Linked DNA regions of Homo sapiens: region 2 is linked to region 1. The links come from fine-mapping of genetic effects on gene expression. A gene starts in region 1. The other region holds a variant in brackets. All regions are shown on one strand. Distances are between the middles of the regions.

Region 1 (4,383 bases):
CTCGGGTCAGACAAAGTCTGAGGCTCTGTCTTCAACAGCATGGTGGAAGAAGGGAGCCCCTCACCACACACGTGGCACCTGAGGTCTTGGCTGGACCCAACAGCACTGGCCTGTCCACAGGGAGCACCTGCCCTGCCAGGTGTGGGGCGACCCAGGTGGGGAACAGAACCGCTGCCGCAGGGCACAGAAGCACTGATGCTGTATCAGCCAGGAGAGGCACCAAAATTTCAGGGCCCTTGAGGGGAGAAGGAGAACCAGGACCTTGAGTTTGGCTCAAACCTAGCTTTGCTGCTTCTTGGCAGTGAGATGCTGGGCAGGTGTTGAAGCCTCAATTTCCACTATCTATAGAATGAGTAGCCCCACCTTGGAGGTCTGAGGTGAGAGTTAGGAGGCTCTAGATGGCCTGACTTTTGTTCAAACGCAAAGAGAGGACAAACTCATTCTGTTTGGAAGGAGGGAGGCAGTGGTGTCTGAGCTAGACTCAGATGATTTCCCACAAAAATCTCTGAGATCTGGGGATCTGGGGCCTCCTGTGTTTGGCTGGATGATACAACCTGTGAATACAGGTCTCAGGGAGCCTTGGGGCAAATTACTTCCTCAGCCCAGCATTTCTGGGCTACTTTACAAGTAACGAAGAATTCCTTTGAGACCACCGGCCAGCTTGAGAGCTAGCCAGTGCCACAGATCCCACAAAGGTGATTTCAGACTAGACCCACCCCCCAGAAAGGCCAGCAGCGCCCCTCTACCAGGATAAAAGATGAGAAGGCTCCGGCTAACACAGGGGACCTGACACCCTGGCCTACCGGCTGCCTGCGGGGTCAAGCCTGTGTGCTCCCAGCCCAGGCCACATCTGCATTTGCACACCGGATGCCGCACAGTGAAATAAAAACCTGGTATCTCCTCAGAAGCAGGAATATGAACCCACTTCTCGGTGGGGGGGTCACCAAACACTGCTTCCCAGTGGGTTGTGATCCCATAGGGAATGGAAATGCTGAATATATCACAGAATCTCGGAGACGGCGGCCTCCTCAAGATCTCCGAAGTTCCTTCTGACCCAGAGAGCCTGGAATTTTGTGAATTCGAGGCAGGCTCAGGGAAATTGAAAGCTAAAACTCACCTTTGTCCACATTACATGAAGATTTACATTAAATCTCTTCGGGAAGCTGAGAAACCTACCTTCCCAGGAATCTTGATTCAGGACCCACCCAGCTGCCTAAGGCTCAGTCAAAAGTATCAATTATGCACCGTTTCAATGACATTTAACTTAATTTTTAAATTATATGTTTCAATTCTTAATTAGACACCTAGACGTACCAACTAAACTTTTTAGGCAAAAGTGCTGTTGGGTAACAGGAGTAGAGTGTAATTACCTCACCTCAACCACTCTTTAGTTTCACACGAAACAGGGAAAGGCAAACCCAATATACTTTTTGCAACTCACATGAAAAACCTGAAAACAGCTTTATCACTCTTTCACCAAAGCTGAAATAACTGTCTTGTTTTACTAGCAAATGTTTCTTACTCAAATCAACTAGCACTCCAACACAAAAGTCAATCTTGGTATTTTTAAGTAAAAATTCTCTTTGTTCCGGGCCACCACAGATCACTGTTCTGTCCCACCGGTTTGAGCTGAAGAGTAACTTAGCAACTCTCAGTTTTGGCGATGAGATTTCAGACTCCCCTCCCCTGGCTCCCCTTCAGGCACCGAGAGGGCAAATCTGTCCAGAAAGCGTTATTTCTTCTCCCGAGTATTCACGAGGTTACAAGGAAAAGGGTGCCTGAAGAAGCTCCCTCCCGTTCCCGCAGCAGCCGCCGGCAGGTCCCAGGACCCACGCCAGGACCCCCAGCACGTCTGGGTACCCGCGCCCCCTCCCACCCCAGTCCCCGCGCCCGCCCGCCTTGATGCTCGCGCCTTCACCCCGCCCCTACCCCCGCGCCCCCACCCGCCCCTACCCCGGCGCCCCCACCCGCCCCTACTCCCGCGTCCGCTCGCGCCCCCACCCCACCCCTACCCCCGCGCCCCCACCCGCCCCTACTCCGGCGCCCCCCCCCACCCCGCCCCTACCCCCGCGCCCCCACCCGCCCCTACTCCCGCGTCCGCTCGCGCCCCCACCCGCCGCAGTCCCCGTGCCCCCTCTTACCCGGGCGCCTGGGCCGCCCCCGCCGTCTGCTGTGCTGAAACCCATGCTGGACCCTGGTCTCCCGAACTCCGACGCTTTCCCCGAACTCTGCCTGGTCCCGCTGTGCACTGGGCCGAGGCCGCCTTCGCCGCGCGCGTTCCCGGGGCCCCGCCCGATCCGGGCGAGAGAGGGGCGGGGCCGGGGTCTCCCCTAGGAGGCTCCGAGGGTCCGGCCGGGGCGGGGCGTCTCCCCTGGACCCGGCTGCGCAGCTCCCGCCTAGCCCCGGACGCGCCCACCTGGGCGGCTCCTCCCCGAGCGCGGGCGGCAGTGGCTTCTGCTTTTGTTCTCTCGGAGCCCGGAGCTCGGGGACCTGCCATTTTGTGGATGCCACGTTGCACCCGGACGGGCCCCTGGTTTCCATAACGTAGAGGCACAAATCTGAATGCTCCAGGGCAGAGGATCTGACCCCTGAGTTCTGCCAGTGTACCCGGACGGGACCCCGATTTCCCCTGGTCTAGGCGGACCAGCTCCAGATTTCTGCAGGTGTGGACGGCCCAGGCCCTCTCCTCCGTCCAGGGGCCGCTGTGGGAACTACGTGCCACCCCGCGCCTGGCTTGGATAATGAAGGGCTTCAGCGAGGGCCCCAAATTCCATCACCCTCCCCCCCCACAACTCAGGGTGCCTCGGGGTGTCTGGTGCTCTGGAACATGCTTTCCCCAAAGGTGCAATTTTAATGCCTTGATCTACAAAGAGCCTCCCAAAACAAAGTCCCTCTCCCGCCCGTTAGTCCAGGGTGCTCTGGGCACCAGCTTCCTGCTGGGAATTCAGCTAGGGAGTGTCTCATAAGGTCCACTCCGTCCAGGAGGGCCTCACAGGGACCCCACCTCAACCTGTCCCCTCAACTTGTCCCTCACCCCTACCCTGGCACCATCCCAAAAACTGCGGCACAGATGTGCTCATTGACAGATAATGCTCCGTTTTGTCACAGGTTACAGAGTGGATGAAGCTCAGGGACACAGCTGGGAGCCTCCCTCCTATGCAGCTCAGGGACACAGCTGGGAGCCTCCCTCCTATGCAGCAGGCAGTCAGTCTCCCTGGGATCTCCGTCGAGGCCTCCTTGAGTCTCTGTCTACTCCTTCCTAGAATCCCTGTCCACACCTCCCTGGGATCCCCTCGAGGCCTCCCTCCCTTGAGTTTCTGTCTACTCCTCCCTGGAATCCCTGGCTGCGCCCCGCCTTGATTCTCCATCTACACCTGTGTTCTCACTGTTCCCTGTCCTGCTTACTTGCTCTGCTTCCTAGAACCTCCAGCCCCATCCCTGAGCCCAGGCAGGGAGCTGACCTGTTCCTGCCCTCTGTGCTGGGTATCTGGGTGTCCCTCTGTGCTGGCCCCTACCTGAGGCCCCCAACACCCCTGCCACACCCTCCTCCCAGCCCGTCCTCGTGACAGTACTGCCCACGGTGCTGTCCAGGATGGGAGCCACCTTTCTAAGCCTGTGTGGCCCCACAGCTCCTGCCAGAGCAGGACCCAAGAATGCTGGCATGCCTCCAGAATAAACGGCTTCATCCCTGTTCAGCACCTCCAGGACGGTCAGCAGTGACCCAGTGGCGCCTGGTCAGGGTGCAGCCCGGAATCTCACTCTTACTGGAGACTTTGGGGCCCGTGGTAGGAGCTCACCCCTGCCACACCTCCACTATACAGAAAGAAAGTGGGACCGTGTGGGGCTTTCTCAGCCCAGGAGTCCTTTGTGAGCTTCTCCAGCCCGTTTCTACAGATCTGGTTCTTTCTTTGCCATGGATCCATGGAATTAGGGATGTTTTCTAGGGAGTTTTTCCAAAACATGGACTATTAACATAGCTTGGTTTATTCAAAAAGTACTTACTGATCAACTACTACTGGTAGTCACAGCACAGCCCCCATCTCTGGGAAGCTGACATTCCAGTGGAGGGAAATAAACCAGTGGACAGAACACAAATCCGGTCAAGGAAGGCCTCTCTGATGGGGCAGGCTGAGCAGACACTGAGAGGAAGCTACCTGGGACTTGAAGGCAAAGGAGCCACCTGTGCAAAGGCCCTATGGGGTGGGGGGGGGGCAGATCTGGTGAGCTCACAAACACAGCGAAAGTGGGGACACTCAGAGGGGATGGAGTTAGAAAGGAAGCGACCTGTTCCGACTTACATTTCAGAGAGCTCAGCAGGCGGAGGCAGGAGATCAGGAAGTGGATGCCTGATCTTGGTGAAAGTGATGAGGTTGGGTTCCAGGG
Region 2 (4,383 bases), 89 kb before region 1:
TGCTCCCAGCCTTGGTAGCCTCCCTGTTTGAGTGTGCGAATGGGTAGCAACCCACTAGGTGCTGGAGGGGCTGATCTGGTGAGTCTTTCCCCATGCAGGCATCTCTCTCTGGCACTCTGACCTGCCAACTCCTGCTGACTTGGTCTCTTCAACTCACGGAGGCTGCTGGGCTCTTCCTGGGCCCCTCCCTGCACTGAGGCCTGCAAACTCTCAAGGCGGAGGGAGGTCTGAGGCCATCACCGGGCTCACCTCCCGTTTTCCTGTCTCTCAGGGATCGCGGTCCTTTGTTGCCAAATGTCTTGTGTCTTGACATCTTTTGTTTCATGTTTAGTCTTTTTTTGTCTTGTTTTAGGTCTGTTTCCTATGCTGTTGTCTTGGGTGGAAGTGGAAGGTTTGTTTTTTAAATAAGACAAAATTATAAATTTGTTTGAAAATGTTAGGGAATGTCTAAAATCCTGGGAAATACCTGGACACCTGCTGTGCTATTCCCTCTGGATCGTTCCAGCCACGCGATGGGCACCGCCACCCCCAGAGTCATCAGGCCTGGCGTGCTGCTCCCTCTGTATTGTTCTAGCCACATGATGGGCACTGCCACCCTGACAGTCATCAGGCCTGGCGTGTGCGGCTCAGCAGCACAGCAGGAGCCCCCTCACACACTGCAGCCTGGGTGCCCGTCTCTAGTTCTGGCTCTGGCTCATCTTCCTCGACGCAGGCTCTGATATCAGATGACCAGGGGCTGTGGGCAGGGCTCCATAGGCCCGGGTGGGCTGGGCTGGAGGACACAAGCAGGCCCAGCGACCCCAGGATGGAGGAGGACTGGCTGCTAGAAGAGGAGGTGCTGCTGTCTGAGATGGTGGAGTGTGGTCGCTTGAAGGGGGCGGCGTGGTCAGAGGAGGACACCGCTGTGGACCCTCTCATTTGTGACTCTGGAAAGGGACAGAAAGCACGTCAGGCTGGCTTCCGCTCCAGAAGTGCAGCCCAGGTTCGGGAATGGGATCAGAGCCGTCTGAAAGGCCGACCAGGCTTTGCCACTGCAGTCATGCCCATCCAACCCACCATGTCGGCCACTGGCCCAGTGCCCTCTGCAGGATGAGTGAGGGCGGGGCCGAGGCCACCGTACCCGTGTCCTTGACGACAGGCCTGGTGCACTCTGTGGGCGAGTGAGGGTGGGGCCGATGCCACCGTACCCATGCCCTTGATGACAGGCCCAGTGCCCTCTGCAGGGTGAGTGAGGGCGGGACCGAGCCACCGTACCTGTGCCCTTGACGATGCTGTCGGGGACTCGGTCGCTCATCACTGCACATTTGGGAGCCCGGTCGCTTATCACTGCACAGTCAGGGGTCCGGTCTCTGGGCTTGACATCCATGAATGGCTGGTTGCCTATACCCATGGATGCCATTTCTTGGATTCTGAGTTCTAAGACAGAAGAAAGTATGACAGTTTCCAAAGCAACTCGGGGGCTAATGCCACCCCAAAGACGCCCGGTACCCCTAATGCCCTCAGCCCAAACCAGGAGGGTGTACAGGGTATACCCACCCTGCCCCACGAGGGGCATGGGGGGCCAGGGTGCTGAGGCTTCCCATTCCGGTTTTCGGCACCAAAGAGATCTCTCCCAGGGAGCCCGAGGCAGTAACCAAGAAAAAGGAAGCCATGAGGCCTTGGAAACGGCGTGTCCAACCTGGGGGTGAGGAAGGGTTCCTGTCAGCTGGTAAGCAAGGGAGGGCCACACAGCAGGTCCCAATTAGAGCAGGGGTCAGAGGCCTGGGAGCCGTGTCCATGGGAAAGACAAAACAACAGGTTTCTAGGAGTTTGAATATTGAGAGGAGAGCTAAGCATAAGGTGAGAGTTTGGGAATGAACTTATTCTTGGTCAAATTAAGCAAAGAAAAAAGATGATATTAATTGTAAGGAAAATGTATGAGGACAGAAAACATAATTGCATGTATGTAGTCCTAATGCCTATGCTGAAGAATATTATAGTAAGAATTGTTTTCCAGAGGTCTTGGGAGAACGGGAAGAAGTGCGGTGTGTGTGTGCTACAGTCACAGAGTTACTGATCATCTTCACCAATAGGTAATGTGCAAAGCTGGTTTATCAAGAGCGAGTGTCCCCTCTTGCAGGGAAAGGGCTGAGTGTGGCTGCCCGGGACACAGGGCTTGGAGTTGGGCAGTGAACAGGACATTGCTCTTCCCCTAACTCCGAAGGCTATTTTAGGGTTAGAGCTGTGCACGTGGACGCGGGACAGCTTCCTGCTCTGGCTGCAGTGGGTTTGCTCGTGTACCTTACATCCAAGCCCACGGCCAAGAACAACCAGAAAAGCTGGACACACTTTTTGAAGGTTTTCTGGAGGTGACAAGGCAATCTAGCCTCAAAGGGCCAATGTCCTGGGCAGATGTGGCGTTCACAGGCCACTGGAAACTTGACACCTTTCTACCCCTCAGGGCACTGCTGGTGGCCGATGAGCAGAGAGCTCATCTTGGAGCTTGGAGGCTGAGAGCTTCTGAAAACGCACAGGGTGGGGAGATAAAATCTGGAATTCAAGGACCACTGGGAGGAAGGGCCTGGGAAACTCCCAGACATTCAGTGGGGACCTGAAAAGGGAGCATGGACTTTGCCAGGAGTGGGACAAACGGAAGCTGGATCAGCTGCCCAAAGGTCTGAGGCGGACTTCATGCAGTCCCTCCCCGGAGTGC[A/G]TTCAGATGAACCACCCCTGCTCTTCCAACAAAAATAAATCCTCTGGAGGTGAAGACACCAGCCCGGGCCTCAAATGATCCTTACACATTTCCTACATCATATCTACTACTTAATAAAAAAATTATCAGGCACACCCAGAGAAAGGACAAAATGAGGAAAGGCTGAGGAAAACCCCAGATAATTAAACATCCACGAGATAAAGGTTTGGACGTCTCAGACAGGCCGTGGAGGTAACCAGGATTAATGTGGCAGGAAGTAGATCACAGGATAGAGAGTCTCAAAAGGAAACCGAAATCCATCAAATAAAAGGAATCAAACACAAACCTACATATCAAAAATAAACCAATAATGAAATAAGTGAGTTTAATAGCAAAGCAGATCAATGAACTTTAAGATGAGTGGAAAACACACAGAAGCAGGGAAGACGTGATCGAAACATAGAAATCACACGAGAAACATAGGAACATGTAAAAGGGTCATACGTGTAATCGGGAGTTCCAGGTGGAGTGCAGAGAGTGGAGCAGGAGAAGTGATCAAATGTTCCAGAACTAACCCCACGCTCGGACACAGGCAAGGACCACCACGCTTGGCCGTCAGAGCATAGCTGGCCTGGGGACAGCCAGAGAGCTCTCATTCATGGCGGTGGCTGCCCAGGTCTCTCTGCCTGGGGGGTGTTCCCCGCCTTCCTGTGGATGGGACAGAAGCATCAGGTGGTTCACACACCAGGAGGAGCCTCAACAATGAGGGACAGGAGTTGGCAGAAAAACACCCAGGTCCTTCAGTATGTGGGGGTCCCTCAGCATGTGGGACAGTGCCTCAGTGTGCCTGTCTTCCAGAGGGTGTGTGCAAGGACCTGCCCATCAATCACCCTCCATGGCCTTCCCCTCCTCTCTCACTCCCCTGTTCTCACCAAATAGGTAGAAAACAAAGAGTAAGATACTCAATTTATACCCAAATTACATTAAATGTAAACACACTACTCCAATTTAAAGACAAGGTTAGTCAAACTAGATAAAAAGATAAAAGTGAAATCAAACATATGCCTTTTACAAGAGACGTATCTCAAATATAAGAACACCAAAAGTTCCAAGTAAGAAGATGGAGAAGTATGTGTCGTGTAAACACTAACTTTGCAAAAGGAAACTGGAATAGCTATATTAATAGGAAGCACAGTTGGCCTTCTGTATCAGTGGGTTCCATATCCACAGGTTCCACCAAGGATCAAAAATATTTGAACAAAAAGCAATTAACAATAAAAGTTAAAAATACAAATAAAAAACCAATATAACAGCTATTTATAAGCATTTTCATTGTACTATGGATTATAAGTAATCTACAGATGATTTAAAGTATATAGGAGCATGTGTGTAGGTTCTATGCAACTACTGTTCCATTTTATATCAGCGACTTGAACAACTGCAGATTTGGGTATCCGTGGGGGAGTCCTGGACCGCATCCCCATGGACATAGAGGGACAACTGTAGATCTAAGGCAAAAGGCACTGCTAAAAATAAAGAGATGCATTTCATTATGATCAAAGAGGCTCTGTTTCTAGGAAGATATAGCAATTCTATATTACTATGCACCTACTAATTTAGCTTCAAAACATAGGAAGCAAAAATTGACAGAACAAAAAGAAAAATAGACAAATTCAAATTTACATCATCATGGGAGATTTTCACATAATTTT

Alleles and levels. Alleles are on the strand shown, and positions count from the first base shown. SD is a standard deviation of normalised expression in the study named.
For the expression in lung of the gene that starts at base 2,250 in region 1, A is the high allele of the variant in region 2 and G is the other (small effect, 0.39 SD a copy in GTEx).

The links. PIP is the estimated chance that this variant, and not a neighbour inherited with it, causes the effect. A credible set is the group of variants that fine-mapping cannot tell apart.
Region 2: its variant is the best candidate, but not a certain one, in a credible set for the expression of PLEKHG4B in lung (GTEx, PIP 0.79).

What each region holds. Positions count from the first base shown.
Region 1 is chr5:90,035-94,417 of GRCh38, reverse strand. It overlaps PLEKHG4B (pleckstrin homology and RhoGEF domain containing G4B), which reads right to left and starts at 2,250. Exons shown (of 20, transcript NM_052909.5): 1 at 2,142-2,250. The coding sequence starts at 2,186. RefSeq lists an enhancer at 3,211-4,050.
Region 2 is chr5:178,547-182,929 of GRCh38, reverse strand. PLEKHG4B (pleckstrin homology and RhoGEF domain containing G4B) reads right to left here. Exons shown (of 20, transcript NM_052909.5): 19 at 1,255-1,416; 20 at 1-926. The coding sequence ends at 607. Among named protein-coding and RNA genes, the nearest start is that of LRRC14B, 11 kb to the left of the region's middle. RefSeq lists an enhancer at 669-1,169. The variant A/G (reference allele first, on the strand shown) is at 2,693.